2 linked regions of the Homo sapiens genome follow. The protein of the gene in region 1 interacts with the protein of each later gene in a biochemical or structural test. Each region holds a gene or a part of one and is shown in the gene's direction. Other genes may lie near its edges.

Evidence for each region.
Region 2: the proteins of ITPR1 (region 1) and CA8 form a complex in vitro, tested with the Homo sapiens proteins (one study listed by BioGRID).

The regions. Positions count from the first base shown.
Region 1 is NC_000003.12:4,677,714-4,685,540, forward strand, and holds part of ITPR1 (inositol 1,4,5-trisphosphate-gated calcium channel ITPR1), read left to right. Parts: intron 1-2,839; coding exon 2,840-2,978; intron 2,979-3,650; coding exon 3,651-3,705; intron 3,706-5,672; coding exon 5,673-5,838; intron 5,839-5,914; coding exon 5,915-6,085; intron 6,086-6,567; coding exon 6,568-6,633; intron 6,634-7,355; coding exon 7,356-7,493; intron 7,494-7,827. UniProt on the Homo sapiens protein: Inositol 1,4,5-trisphosphate-gated calcium channel that, upon inositol 1,4,5-trisphosphate binding, mediates calcium release from the endoplasmic reticulum (ER).
Region 2 is NC_000008.11:60,208,266-60,216,092, reverse strand, and holds part of CA8 (carbonic anhydrase-related protein), read left to right. Parts: intron 1-7,173; coding exon 7,174-7,308; 3' UTR 7,309-7,343; exon of another isoform or gene 7,344-7,827. UniProt on the Homo sapiens protein: Does not have a carbonic anhydrase catalytic activity.

The DNA.
Region 1 (7,827 bases):
TTTGTTGTAATATTTTTTAAGTGGGTGGGTTATAACAAGCTTGTATGGTGAATAGGAATGATCATGTATACAGGGAGAGTTTGTTGCTGTTTGGGGAGAGAATAATTGTAAGAGCAAAGTCCTTCTGTAGGCAAGCGGGGGTGGAATCTAGTATATAGGGAAGGCTTGGTCGTAGGCATGAAACCCTCCCAAGCCTCTCTACAGCTTTGAACCCCACCCGACAACCTGCGCTTCCCTCTTTCTGTGCCGTGTAGGTAACTTTTATTCATCAACAAAATCATCTGCTCCTTAATGGAAAGAATTATGTGTTAGCACCTTCTTTTTTTTTATCCCATGTTGCCTGATCTCAACCCCAACAGATGTAGTAGAAATTCATAAATGTTTAAGATCTGGGGGTTTTATTTTTTAGTCTGAAATCACCCTTTACCAATGCTTTGAAAGTTTTAATGGGTTGTCTCAAAGTCATGTAATTAGGACGATAAAGACAGCTTAAGTAAAGGAGAAATCTTACTGAATTTATGCCTGAGCAACAGTAGAGAAAGATTCCTTTTTTAAAACTTTATTTTTTAATAAATTTTATTTTTACTTTTATTTTCAATTTTTTTTGTCGAGACAAAATATACATATAAAATTTGCAGGCCATGGTCCATGTGTTCCAAAGTGGTGTCTTGGACGTTTATCAGAAACGACGCAGTGCAAAACTTGGTCACATCTTGAGGTCCACTCACCGTGGTGACCTAAGAAGGATTGGTCGATTGAGTCATTCTTTCCACGGGTACTTATTGACTCCCTACCATGTGCACTGTGAGGAATGCAAAAATGATTCGAACAGGGGCTCCATCCACAGGGGTTTATAGTCTGATGGGAGAATAAGGTATGATGAAGCTGCGTGGATGTGGAAATAAAACCACCAGAAAGTTCTTCTGAGACTGGAGTCCGGGAGTGGGGTCATGTGACTCCACATGGTAAAGATCAGAGAAGGGTTGATGGAGGAGGTAGGGTTTCATCTGAGCCTTTAAGGTGCATGGGCTTTGTACATGGAGAAACAAGGGCCCGTTCTCAGGTGGATGGAGCAGCCTGAAGCCGAGTACCATGGGATGCAGGTCAGTGGGCAGTTCTTGCTGAGCAGAGACATAGAGTGTGCTGAGGGGAAGTTGTCAGAAGTGAGTTTGGAAAGGAGGACCAAGCCACACTGCACAGAGCTTTGGGTGTCTAAAATGCTAAGGCTTATTCTCTGTTGAGCCTTTGAAAGTCTTCAAGCGGGAGCTTAACATAAGAACAAGTGGTTAGGAGGCTGATTTGGTGAATTTGGTTCTGTAAATGGAACAGGCAGGAGATAATGAGGCCTTGAGCAGGGAGAAACGGCAGTAGGGGAGAACTCTATGAGAAGCGGTAAATGGAGAACCACCAGGACTTAGTCTCTGATTAGATGTGTGTCCAGGAAGGAGGCGCTGATGATCAGGCAACTGACTGAGGTTGAGGAAACCCAGGCAGAAAGTAGATGAAGGCAAGACTGACAATGTTAGTGTGTTAGCGCTCTCCAGAGAAACAGAACAAATAGGATACATACAGATAGACAAGAGGGGGTTTATTATGGGAATTGGCCTCACGCAGTTACGGAGGCCGAGAAGTCCCCCAGTCTGCCACAGCAAGCTGTGTCCCGGGAAAGCCAGTGGTGTGATTCAGCCTGAGTCCCAAGGCTGAGAACCAGGGGAGCTGAAGGTGTAACTCTCAGTCTGAGGCCAAAAGCCGGAGAACCTGGAGCTCTGATGGGCAGGAGAAGATGAGTGTCCCAGCTCCAGAACAGGTGGATTCGGTCTTCCTCCACCTGTTTGCTCTATCCAGGCCCTCCGTGGATTGGATGGTGCCCACTCACACTGGGTGAGAGCGGATCTTCTTTACTCAGCTCACTGATTCAAATGCCAGTCCATTCTGGAAACCCCCTCATAGATTTACCCGGAAATAAAGTTGTACAAGCTGTCTAGGTGTCCTTGAACCCAGTCAAGTTGGCATATAAAATTAACCATCGCAGTTACTTTTGTGAAACACTGAGTTTGAGGCCCTGGGAAGATAGCAAATAGGATGTCCAACAGTCTGTAGGACACATACACTGAGAGCATGGAGGCAGGCCAGAGACCTATCTCCCTCTGGAAGAGGTGATGGCCACTGGACTGGGAAAGGTTGCTGGGAGGCTAAGCAGAGACAAGGGGAGAACGGAAGGAAGAACGTGAGTGAGATCCCTACATGATGTCAGCTGCTCAATCTTTCTTTTTGGTTCTAGCAGCAATCCTGGGAAAAGTGACCCTGTGTTGGAATAAAGGGTGAGGGAATACAGGAGGCAAAAGAAGAGGGTGTCCAAGGGTTTGTACCCAAACCAGGGGAAACAACCAGAAACAGGAAATAGGAACCAAGCTAATTTTCCATAGTAAAAAACAAATTTTTTTTTGTTAATTCTCTTAAATCCAAAGCAGGCAACTTCACTCTTTTCAGTGTTAGGCCCAGAGTTGACATTCAATACTTACTGAAATGGAGTCTTGTTTTATAGACTCCATTTATGGAGCCAGGAGTGAGTGATTTAGTGTTCCAATTGTTAAATTAATTGCCAGGATGCTGAAGCTTACACTAGAGGCTAAGGTGCTATGGGCAGACTTCATATGCCCCATGGAAGTCTGCTGTTGTTAAAATGACTGTTGAAATCTAAGCCAAATACTTGGCTCACTTAGTGCTTAAGGTAATTGATGCAGCTGATACCAGGCCCCGCCAGTGTGTGGTGGCTTGGCAGAGTCAAGATGGTATGTTAATGTAACCAATCTGTTTCCATTTCCACTTGAATCTTTAGTTTATTTTGAATGTGAGGTTGGATTATAGGATCTCCTGCCTCCTGTGTATATTTAAGCGAGAGTTTGATGAAAGCAATTCCCAGACTTCAGAAACATCCTCCGGAAACAGCAGCCAAGAAGGGCCAAGTAATGTACCAGGTTAGTGATTCAGAATGGAATTTCAGCCATAGAATGGGACCTGGCTCTAAGGAAAATGGGGAGAGCAAACAGTATCTTCTAGAAAAAGGGTGAAAATGGTTTTGAGGATTATTGCACCAGGGCATCATCCTGGCAGTTACTCTTTTTGAGCAAGTGAATAATTGATAGAGCCCAGATTCCTTCTGGGTTGGATCTTGTTTCCTTCCATCTGGGAGTGTCTTAGTGATGAGACAGTTGAGGTTTCCAGCATTGTGGCTACCCACCTCCCCCGCAAAAATACCAAAATAAAAACAGTAACAAAAAACTCTCCAGGAGACTTCTTGACCACTAGCAGCTTTTACTCACTTTGGAAGTTTTTCCCTGCCCAGGAACTAGTGGTGACGGGAGATGGTAGGAGTAGAAATAATCCCATCTACCAAGCCCAAGCTTCCATGAGTGAGATCATTGCTGTCCTTTACCAGGGGACCATGCAGTGAGGGAGGAAGGGGCAGGAATGTGGAATATGTGGTTAATGTCATCTGGGTTAGTCACTCTGCATAGCTTTGCAATATAATGTTCTGGGAGATTTGGGGTTAACTCAACAGCTTTACCCTGCAAAACTTATGGATGAGTTCACCAGCAGCATGTTTGCAGACCTTCCTGCATCTGAAGTGGTATGTTCTAACTTTTCAGGTGCTCTTGACTTTGAACACATTGAAGAACAAGCAGAAGGCATCTTTGGAGGAAGGAAAGTATATTTTCAGTTACTGTTTTGTAGGGAAGGCTGCTCTTCCAGAGCTCTCAGAGGCCTTCCCTTTATTATGTTAGTAAATATTTAGTCTCTGGGCTTAGGTTGTTTTGGTGCTATCTTTGGAACTGTTAGTACTCAAGTCAGAGTTAACTTGGTTGGCTTGATTGGGAGGAGAGAGAGAGTGAGAGAGAGAGAGAGAGAAAGTGTGTGTGTGTGTGTGTGTGTGTGTGTGTGTGTCCCACCTAGGACAGAAAGGATTTAAGGAGATTTCTCAAAATACCTACATTACAAGATTATTTTTACATAGTGAGGAAATGCAATCAAAAGAAGAATAGAAAGAGAGAGGGGCTCAAAACAGAGTGAAGTTAGTAAGATCATGTCCTGCTGCTGCTGCTGGGCTACAATTTTATCCCTGAGCTCCTTACAGGCTATGCAACAAAGAAAGCAAAATCTGGTCTTTCATTGTTCCTAATATTAATGTATGAACCCCTTTAAAAAAAAACCGCACTGGTCAATTTTGACTTAAGACATTATTATAATTATGGAACTCTTATACCTCCAAGTATAAAATTTGGTATAAACACCATATGCACATAGTTCTTATAATTAGCACACTTGGTTTGATTATTGCTTTATAACATATTACTCCAAAAAACTTAAGGATTCAAACCACCACCATTTTATTAATACTTCTTACAGTCCTGTGGCTTGATTAAGCTGGATGGTTCTTCTGCTGGTGGTCACTGTTGGGTCTGTCATACTGTAGTGAGGTGGTAACTGGGGCTGGCACCTCCAAGTTGGATTATTCACATTTCTGGCACTATAGCAGAGATGCCTGCAAGGCCAGAACTTCTTTCTCTCTCTGTCCATGTGGATAGCTTGGGCTTCTTTACAGCACGGTGGCTGACTCAAAAAGCAAATGTTCTAAGAGGACAAGCCAACAGTATGCAAGTGCTAATTGGGCCTCTGCTTGCATTGCATCTCCTAATATCTTATTGTTCAAGCAAATCCCATGGCCAAGCTCATTGTCAGTGTGGGAGGGGACTACATAAGGGTTTGAACACTCTGTTGGGGCCCACCAGTGTTAATAGTCTACCTCAATGCTTAATATAAAACCTGTGAAATTTGAATTAGCAACATTATGTACTATGATGGAAGATGTTTTTCTGAAACTTAAACATGGTATTGTGAGTTTAGCATAATACAGGTTCCATGTGCTGTGTGATCACTCAGCTCTCCCGCCATTTTCCTCATAGTGAACAGCATTGAAACCTTCACACCTTTTTGGAATACATAGCATGAATACAGTATTTATAAGTCTTCTCTGTGCTTTTCTTATTAGCCAGCAACCAGGAAGTTTCCACCATTTGTCATTCATTTGACTCTAAACCCAATATAGGTGCAGACCCAATAATTGACTAGCAGTGCTCAGTTATGGAGTAGTCTGCCATTTGATCTAGGATATGCTTATTAATATTTAAATATAGTCAGGCATGGTAGTGCATTCCTATAGTCCCAGCTACTCAGTATGCTAAGGCAGGAGGATCATTTGAGCATAGGAGTTTGAATTCAGCCTGGGCAACATAGCAAGACCTCATCTCTAAAAACTAAATACATAAACTAATAACTTAGGAGAAACACATCCTCTTGCAGTTCTCAGACCACAGACGAAGCCCAGCAGAAGAACACCCTATGTAGATGTTGAGAATCTAATGCTAGTCTTGTCACTTTGGCTTAAAATTTGACTTATCTTTTAATATGACATCTTCCTTGTCCCCTCACCTCATAATATAGTTGAAGATGAAGCAAGGCTGTATTGTTAAAGGAGCTAATGAAAAGTGAAATTGCATGTCTGGAGATCACAGTGCTAGAAATGCAACTAGGTTAGGTGCATCTGGGCCCAAGGGGCGTGAGAGGAGGCATTTGTCATTCATTTGGCCTTTCCCCACCTTGTGCTCCTTTAGTGAGGAGAACACCCCACTGGACTTGGATGACCACGGCGGCAGAACCTTTCTCCGTGTCCTGCTCCACTTGACGATGCATGACTACCCACCCCTGGTGTCAGGGGCCCTGCAGCTCCTCTTCCGGCACTTCAGCCAGAGGCAGGAGGTGCTCCAGGCCTTCAAACAGGTAGCTCAGGTCACCCACGTGTGTGTTGTCTGTCCAAGAAGCTGTTGTGTGCACCTAACGGATTGCGTTCATTAAGGTTCAACTGCTGGTTACCAGCCAAGATGTGGACAACTACAAACAGATCAAACAAGACTTGGATCAACTGAGGTCCATCGTGGAAAAGTCAGAGCTTTGGGTGTACAAAGGGCAGGGCCCCGATGAGACTATGGATGGTGCATCTGGAGAAAATGAACATAAGAAAACGGAGGTGAGTGAAACACAAGTTATGCTGCCAAAGTGGATGGATGGGCTTCTCGAAACTAGGGAGCATCCTCTTCTGGTTTTAGGTATAAATGTGATAGGATTTATTTTCAAGAGATCTGCTTGTTAAGTCACCAAGATCACAAGCTGTTTGCCTAGGAAATAAGCTACGAATCAAAGTTTAGCTATGTCTCCTGTGCAGCCTTGGACCATGTAGAAGAGACTGCGATATTGAGTGAATTAGCACCAGGTTTCCCTTACAGACCCACTTGGGAATTGACCTGTTCTCTAGGCATGGCCCAGCCCACTACTATCCCTTCCCAAGGAAACCCATAGCAAGTAGGTAGATGACTGGGGCATAAGCCCAGCATGACTATTGTAAAACAGTATAGAACTCCCTTTCTTTCCTAAAGGTCGATGCTAACTGTAAAAAACTGACAGTAGCCCAAGAGTTGTACAGATCACACTTGTGTTCACTTTGGTTTCTAGGAGGGAAATAACAAGCCACAAAAGCATGAAAGCACCAGCAGCTACAACTACAGAGTGGTCAAAGAGGTAAGCTCCTCCCCCACCACCATTTTTCCTTTCTTTATGAATTCTCTAAGGAGCTTTAGTTTGTGATAGTCAAGTTGAAGGTACACACATTTGAGCTTTTTTCTTCATGTGGTTTAACAGGGAGAAAGTAGAGCTCAGAGGTTAAGCTCATGGGTTTTGGCATCAGATCTGGGCTCCACACCCAGCTCTTCTACTTATTATTTTTGTCCTCAGCTTCCTCACCTTTTGTAGGTGCAACCTTTCGTAGGCACCGCATATTTCTGAAGCTTTACAATTGAAGGAAGGACTAATTGAGAATACTGTCAGGGAGTCATCTAAGTGCCTGGTACACAGTGTCCCCACTGAGAGCTGTAGTTTTTTAGAAACCTTTGCGTACGCTGGTTCAAAGTTGGGAGGCTGGGAGCTTTGTGTGTTTTACCCCAGAGCAAACTCTTCCCAGGGTCTCGGCAATGATGCCAGGTCATTCCATTTTAAGCGATATCTCTGAAACTGTCCCACTTGTTGTTGAAGCCATAATCCCCTGCTTATTCTGGAAGACGTGACCTTAGTCTTATGGATTTGGCTTGATGGAGTCAACAGAAATGCCACATACTGAAGGAATTTTGTTTTACGTTTTTAATGCATTATAATCCCCTTTGCCTCCCTGCCCGCCACCACCCTCTGCAATCTTTTTCCAGCTATAGTTCCTAGTTTTCTGAGACTGATTTCTTTCATTCTACTAGATTTTGATTCGGCTTAGCAAACTCTGTGTTCAAGAGAGTGCCTCAGTGAGAAAGAGCAGGAAGCAGCAACAGCGTCTGCTCCGGAACATGGGCGCGCACGCCGTGGTGCTGGAGCTGCTGCAGATTCCCTATGAGAAGGTGAGCGGTGCCTCATGCACAGCAGCTGCTCTCAGGATGGGGCGGATCCCTGGGTTTCCCCAAACTCTTCACATCTGGATATTGTTAGTGAAGAAATGCATCCAGTGTGACTATTGTGACTACAAAGCAATTTCAGGTATTGATATGAAACAGAGCATCTGAAAAATAAAGTAAAATCACCCGTGAATAATCCTCATCCCCAGTTTTAAGATTCTGTAAAGAAAGAGAGTCCATTTATTCTCCATACTCCCAAGACATATTGGATAGAGACAACTTGGTCTGTGTCAGAGCTTAGAGCTATATCTACCCATGAGTTGGTGTGTTTCAATTTCAT
Region 2 (7,827 bases), on another chromosome or scaffold:
GACATATAACATAGCAAAAGGAACAATGAATGGCAGGTAGTTTCCACATAGCTGATTATATTGAGAAATTAAAAATTTTGCATTAAATTAAAGAGCAGTGTTTTCTTCTATACCATAAGGTTTATGTATGTAATTAAGCTGCTGAATATTATTGTGGAAAGAATTGGTATCTTGACATGCATCACCTGCCATAGGATAATAGTATTGGCACTAGCAACATTGAAGTTCTAAATCATAATGGTTTCCTATTAAATGCATAGTAGCTGTGATTCAGGGAGGTGTAGACTTCAGCTGAAGTGTAGTGTGGACTGTTAAGCCCATCATACATTGTCCTGAGTACTATTAATAGGAATTCTAGAATAGGAATTCTAAAATTGGAAGCCCCTTCTTAGCTGAATTTTTCATATTATTCCTGGTTAGCATGCCTTATGTAGGGAGAAAAAACACAATTGAACGGATCTGAATGAGTATATATTTCTTTTTTAAAAATTACCTCTAACCATTACATAACTTTATTAAAATTTTTTTATTTCCATAGGTGTTTAGGGAACAGGTGGTATTTGGTTACACGAGTAAGTTCTTTAGTGGTGATTTGTGAGATTTTGGTGGACCCATCACCCAAGCAGTATACACTGAACCCAACTTGTAGTCTTTTATCCCTCACCCCCTTCCCACCCTTTCCCCCTGAGTCCCCAAAGTGGGGATCCGGTGTGTGTGTGTGTGTGTGTGTGTGTATACACACACACACACGACAGTGTTTTTATCCACTCATTGATTATGGACATTTTAACCATTAAATAACTGTAATATAAACAACCGTCTAAGCATTCGGAAGCCAATCAGCTGGATTGTCGTGTTTAGAAATGAGATTCCAAGAACAGAATACAAATACCAAAACATTACCAAATCTAACAACAGAAATTTTAAGACATATTCTGATTTCACAGAGTCATTAAAATGTGAATACATATTAATCTTAGAATTGATAGAACAGGGTATTATGGTATAGTGCCATCTGTGCAAATACGTATGTACACATACAGAAATGGGTTGATAATTAAGTTTTGCTGTCCTTTTCCTGCCCTTTTCTTCCTCCTTTTTCTGCATTCCCTCCCTACTTATCTATTTCTTAGCTTATCTACATTTTCATATTAAATGTCTGTTTTTTCCTGTCTCTTTCAACTTAAAATAACACCAGTGAAATGAAGGAATATGAATGTGTTTGTTGTTTTTTCACCCTGTGGATACATGATACGTCTTCTAGAATATTGAAAACTGCTTTAAATGTTCTTTTCTTCTGTCTTTCCTCCTCTTCATTCCCTCTGCATTCCATGTTTCCTGTGGGTTGGAAAGTAGGACTCTTTACATCCTGACAGCCCGAGTTAGTGCCTGGCATGTGCTCAGCCTGTGGGATCTGGAAGCACATCTGGCCCTGGACAATTGAGGAAGTCTGACCCCATTCATGAAGCAGCAAGTCTTTCTCAGGGGTCTTCATGCTCCATATGGAATCGAAGGGGCTGTTTCCCTAAAGTCCAGGTTGCCGTAGGGCCACAGCATGGTTATGTTTGACAATCACTTCAAATGATTGGGAACATTTGTTATAGATTTTCAATGACTGGGAACATTTGTTGGAGATTTTCTTCTCTGTCCTTTCTTCAGGACCCACCTGAATGGGTCCCCTCTGACATTCAGGTGTTGCCAATGTGATGTATTAAGACATGGGACCTTTAAGAGGTGTTTAGGCCATGAGGGTCCTTCCCTTGTTAATGGATTAAGGCCCTTAAGAAAGAGGCTTCACACAGCATTTTCTTGTTGGCTTGCTTGTCCTTCTGCCTTCTGCTACATGAGGACGAATGAATAATGCCCTCACCAAATGCCAAATGTCTTGATCTTGGACTTCCAGCCTCCAGAACTGTGAGAAAATACATTTCTGTTCTTTATATATCATCCAGTCTCAGGTATTCTGTTATAACAGCACAAAACAGACGAAGACAGCCATGGTTTTCAGACTTGAGCATGTGTCAGATCCCCTGGAAGGCTTGTTGAAGCACAGATTGCTGCGTTCCACCCCTGTGTTGCTGATTCAGTAGGTCTGGGGTAGTTGCTGACAACTTAAACTTTTATTCTGGGAGGATACTTTGAGAACCACTGTTTCATATGTACCTGCATTCGTCTTTACATGTAATTGAGATCAGCGCTATAACCCGAGAATGCCGAGGTCCTGAAGGTGCGTGTGAAGGGCAGCGCTAGGCCAGCCCTGTCCAGTGGGAACATGATGTGATCCACATATTAAACTTTCTAGTAGCCATGGTAAAAAAAAAAAAAAGTCAAAAGAAACAGGTGAAATTAAGAAATTAATTCAAATAGTGTATTTAACCCAATACGTGCAAAATACTATCATTTTAGCATGTAGTCAAGGTAAAAAGTTATTGATGAGATTTCTCTCCTTATTTTCATACTGAGTCTTTGCCTTGCAGTGTGTATTCTGCACTTCCAGCACATCTCAGATTGGACAAGCCAAATTTCGAGTGCTTGGTGGCCATGTGGGCCTGGTGGCTGCCATCCTGGACAGTGCAAATCAAGGATCTTCTCTCTGGGGAGACTCTTTCTTCCCTTTCTTAAAATGTGTTATTTTTAATTGCTTGTAGAGATTTTTATATGTATTTTCTCAGTGTCTTAAGTGATAGGCAGCACTTTCCCTGTGGTTGTGAGCTCTCTAATCTGTAATTCTTTAGTATGTTTAAATCTGTGTGGCTCAGAAACTCTCTTGAGGTGATGAGGGCCGACAACGGCCAAGGCTGAGGCTCCTTTAGGCTGGGGATGGCTTCAGGACCGTTGACGTCGGTGTTACCAGGGAGTGAATGTTCTTCCTACTCTCTTCCTCAAAAAAATTGAAAAGATCGATTAAAGAGTCATGACAGAGTGAGAGTTGGTTTATGAATGAGAGGTTGGTAAGGAAGAGGGAGCATTGGTTTTAGATAGAACATTATATAATGGGGTAGAAGAGAAATGAGGCAAAAACAAGGCTGCAGTACATGAAAGGTGGAGAGTCCTCTCTGTCTATATCTGTCTCTGTATACATATATGGACTGTTTAAGTACAATTTGCTTTTGACTTTTTAATTTGATTAGTACCATTTGGAATTGTGTTATTCTGACTCTTGTTATTGATAATAAAAGAAAGTGAGAGCACTAACTTTTATAAAGAACCATTTTATCAAGGTCATAAAATATCTGTCACCTCCCAAAGTTTCCTCCCATGTCCTTTGTTGTTAAAATATTTTACTGGGTCAGAACGCTTAACATAAGATCTACCATCTTAGCATTTTAAAGTGTACAATGCAGTATTGTTAACTATAGGTACTGTGCTGTATAGGAGACCTCGAGGACTTATTTATCTTGCATAACTGAAATTTTGTACCCTTTAACCATTACATCCCCATTTCTGCTTCCTGCCAGCTCTTGGCAGCTGCCATTCTTCTCTCTGCTTCTAAGAGTTTGATTGTTTTAGATTCCACATATAAGTGAGTTCATACAATACTTGTGTTTCCATGTCTTGTTGATTTCCACTTCTGGATATAGATTGAAAGAAATTGAAGTCAGTATCTTGAAGAGATACCTGCACTCCCATGTTCATTAAGCCAAGACAGGGAAACCACATAAATGTCCATAGATGGGTTAATGGATAGAGCATACTGACTTTTATGTGTTGTATTTCTCTTTTAACATGATGACACATGAAATGCAAGTGAAAATAAATCTATTAGAACTTGGGAACTCCTGAAAGTTAAGTAGCCCTAAACTGCAAACCCTGGAAATTAGCCCTTTGAATGCATTAATAAAGAAGCAGTTTTAAAGCTGAACTTTTAGTGGATAATTTGGTTTTTGAGGCAGTGAAGATTGGAATAAATGTCTTAGACCAATTGGAGTGCACCTGTCGTTCAAAGAACAGTGGCTGTTGAATCTAGTACCTTCAGAAGATGGCGACTTCTCCATGAAATGTTCAATGTTGGTGCCCCGCATTCAGTTTTCTCTTAAATTGGTTAAAAACAAATAACACATACTATGTTTAAGTGGAGTAGCATTAACAATAGATGCAGTCATACATTCAGATATATGTGATAATAATGGTCTCTGGAAGGCCTTGACATTTGAGTTTCATTAAAGATTTCTATCCTGAAATATTATTCTATTATTCTGTTCATTTATCACAATCTCTCATTTCAGTGTGGCTGATTCAGTATGCACTTGAAACCATTTGAAGTGACTAAAGGGTTTTGGGGGTGGTTGCTTTAGAAAAATTGGCATTTCAGAAAGACACATTTTCCCCTCCATCTCTGTTGATGTTGGAAGTCTTCAAAGTGTTGCTGTGATCAGAGAAAAACATTTCTTGTGAAATAGTTTTCTCTGAGAGTACAGTGATTTGAGACTGGCTGGCTGTTGATTCAGATCATCTCTTCTGGAAGAAGTTGTTTTCACAGAATGTGCTTCAGGGTGAGGCCTGGGGCTTGAAAGGTTTATCTCCAGTTCAGAATGCATAAATATAAAATTAACCCAGCTTTAAAATAATCTTCAAAGTCAATAAAAAATGGATTCTTTCATATGTTGAGGCAGTAAAGTTCCCAGCCCACATTGCTCCTCAGTGACCTGTGCATGCTTCATAGGTTCAGGTTGCAGGTATTAAGTATGATTACATGGAAAGCGAATGCTAGGAGAGATGACTTTAAATTTCCTCAGTGAAATTATTGGTTTATTATAAATACTTTCTGCATATACAACTGTAGCTAAATATTTATCTCAAAGTGCTGAAGGTTTCACTTCAAAAGAAGTTGTGCAATAGAAGTGCTAGTATTTGTCAGACACTTCCTATGTGCTTGGAACTATGCTGAGTGATTTTCATGAATGTTCTTTCTTATTTCCTAGGCTATCCTTGTGAATACTGTTATTATTATGTCTGTTATACACATGTGGAAACTGAGGTTTGAAGAGGTGAAGTCATTTGATCTTTTGGGTCTTAGGTGGCAGAGCACGACAAGAATTGGCCTTTGGGTGCAGAGTCCACTGCCCTCACTGTGATATTCTTCTTTTTGAAAAAGCATAAGATTCTCTCACTGACCAGGTTCCTTTTCACTCTGTACTTAGGGAAAACTTTAAGGTGAAAGCAAATAATAAGGGATTCTCATGCAGCTTCGTCTCTAGAAGTTTTTCAGATGCAACAAGCAATAGATGCTACTCGTATTTTCATTCTAATAGCTGAAGAAGATCTAGCGAAAAACCATCAAGTAGATTAAACAGCTGATTGCTTATCTGACTGGCTTCTCTATGTAAATACAGCATATAGGTACAATAAAAAACTAAACAGGACAATCCCAGTTGGGTCAGACTTAATCTCATTAAGGGAAATCAACCAGTATTCAGTGACATGGAAAAATAAGACATTCGAAGCGCATGTAAGTACAGAGAGAAAAAAAAAAAACCCACAGAAAAGAAGCTGGCTTTCTGACCCGGATTCTAATTGAACTATCCGTTTAATTTTTTTCCAACTCTATGTATGAGTGTGTTGAATTAGAATGTTGTGGGATTCAACTCTTGGAGTCAGGGAGCCTCTCCTGAGGAAAATGCACATGTAAAAATTTGCATATCATTCAGGGCTTTCGTGGGCCCCCTAAAGTCTCTATAGGTGTCTCTTGACTTTGTTGAAACCCCTGAATTAGTTGCTGTCTTGTGTTTCATTTCTCTTTATGAATGGCAGAATTCTATAGCTATGTCATATTAAGGATCTTTGTGGATATAATCCCTTGATACACAGATGGTGAACTTTTGGTGGATTGATGCTGCCCAAATCACGTTTGCTCAATACCCTGGGGTATGTGAAGGAGATAGATTATATTGAATTGACTAGAATTCCTAAAGAGATGACTGTGGAGCTGAGAAAAGAGCAGGTAGACTTGGAATTGTCAGACTTACCCACTAGCTAATCTGGTAATTTTCAAAACTTCCAGCCTCAGTTTCCCCTTCTGTATATGGAATGAAGAATGTGTCATGTGACTGTGTGGCACTTAAGTGAATTAACAGACAATGAACCCTGTAGTTAAATTGATAGATGGGAATAATCCTGGGGAATGCTCATCACTTTTGCTTGTTGCTTAAACATTAGTATTCCCCAGAGAGTCACGTCTGGCAGGCTCTGGGTTCTTAGAGAAACTGTAGGGTGGCTGATGGGCAATGTCCCTGAGGACTCTGAGAACCTTTTCACTTACAGTGGGGAAGCCATGGGACCTGGAGAGCCCACCTAATAAAGGGAAATGAACTTGAAAATCAATATTGTAAAGACAGGAATTTGGGCTCAGACTTTTGAAAAATCATTTTTTTGGACCTGTGCTCTCCAGAGGGCTAGAAAAGTGGCAAAAGTCTTTTGATGAAAGGAAACCTTGAATCTATCTGATAAATCTAAGATCTAATCAGTGTTTACATACAGTAACATAAGAATCCATTAATTAAAATGTACTTGGAAAGCATTTAAGAGCACATTCATTTGTTCACTTTTTCTTATTATGCTATAGATAGGCATAAAACCTTTTTGGGAGAGGTTTGTATCATTGTTTTTTGGAGATGGAGTCTGGCTCTGTCACTCAGGCTGGAGTGCAACGGTGTGATCTCGGCTCACTGCAACCTCCGCCTCATGGGTTCAAGTGATTTCTCCTGCCTCAGCCTCCTGAGTAGCTGGGATTACAGGTGTGCACCACCAAGCCTGGCTGATTTTTGTATTTTTAGTAGAGACAGGGTTTCACCGTGTTGATCAGGCTGCTGTTGAACTCTTGACCTTGTGACCTGCCCACCTTGGCCACCCAAAGTGATGGGATTACAGGCGTGAGCCACTGTGCCCGGCCTGTATCATTTTTACATTAACAAATGGAGCAGATTTCTTTATCTATTTGAGTTGTTCAGAGATCTTGATATGTCTACTTCTGTTGTCATTTCTTGAAAGGGTCCTCTCTAACGTCTTAGGTCTGGAAGAATTAAGTCTGTTTTTTTTCTTTTTGAAGCTTAATTTTAATTTTCTCTTCAATAATTCTTGTAATTTATACATATTTTATGCATGTCATTTATGAAACTCCAATCTTGTTAATGTCCGATAATTGATTAATCTATTTTCTTCTGCTTTTATTTTCAGATAGAAGAATTTCGAAGGCTGAGGACACATGTTAAGGGGGCAGAACTTGTGGAAGGCTGTGATGGGATTTTGGGAGACAACTTTCGGCCCACTCAGCCTCTTAGTGACAGAGTCATTAGAGCTGCATTTCAGTAGCCAAAGAGGACAGGAACAAGTCTGTCTTCATGAGGGTATGTCCAGATTAAGTAAGGAAAATGAGGTGCACAGCTACTTAAACCTAGCGTACCAAAGGTACACTTATTGTGATCCTGGTAATTTAGTAATAAAAGCGTATGTACTTCATCTTGATAAAATTTATGACACATTCTTGAGCTCTGTTAATTACAGGTCAAGTAGGTATTTTAATTTTATGCAGTATTGAAGAAAAACTATGATTATATTTTCCTATCAGAGTAGCCTTTAATTCCAAGTTTTGGTGGCTTTCATAAGAACAGACACCCTCAGGCCCAGAAAAAGTGACATGCATGCATACCTCTTTAGTAACTTACCATGTTGTCCCCGTGAAGCAGCACCAGTCATGTCCCAGTGACCAAGGAGCACATAGGAGGGGACTTGGGGAGCGTGTGAGCCTCAGTGTGGACCCTTCTCGTCTCCTGCAGAATTGATCCTCTTGTTTCTCAGGGGAGGGAGCATATCTGGCATGCATTGAAATAC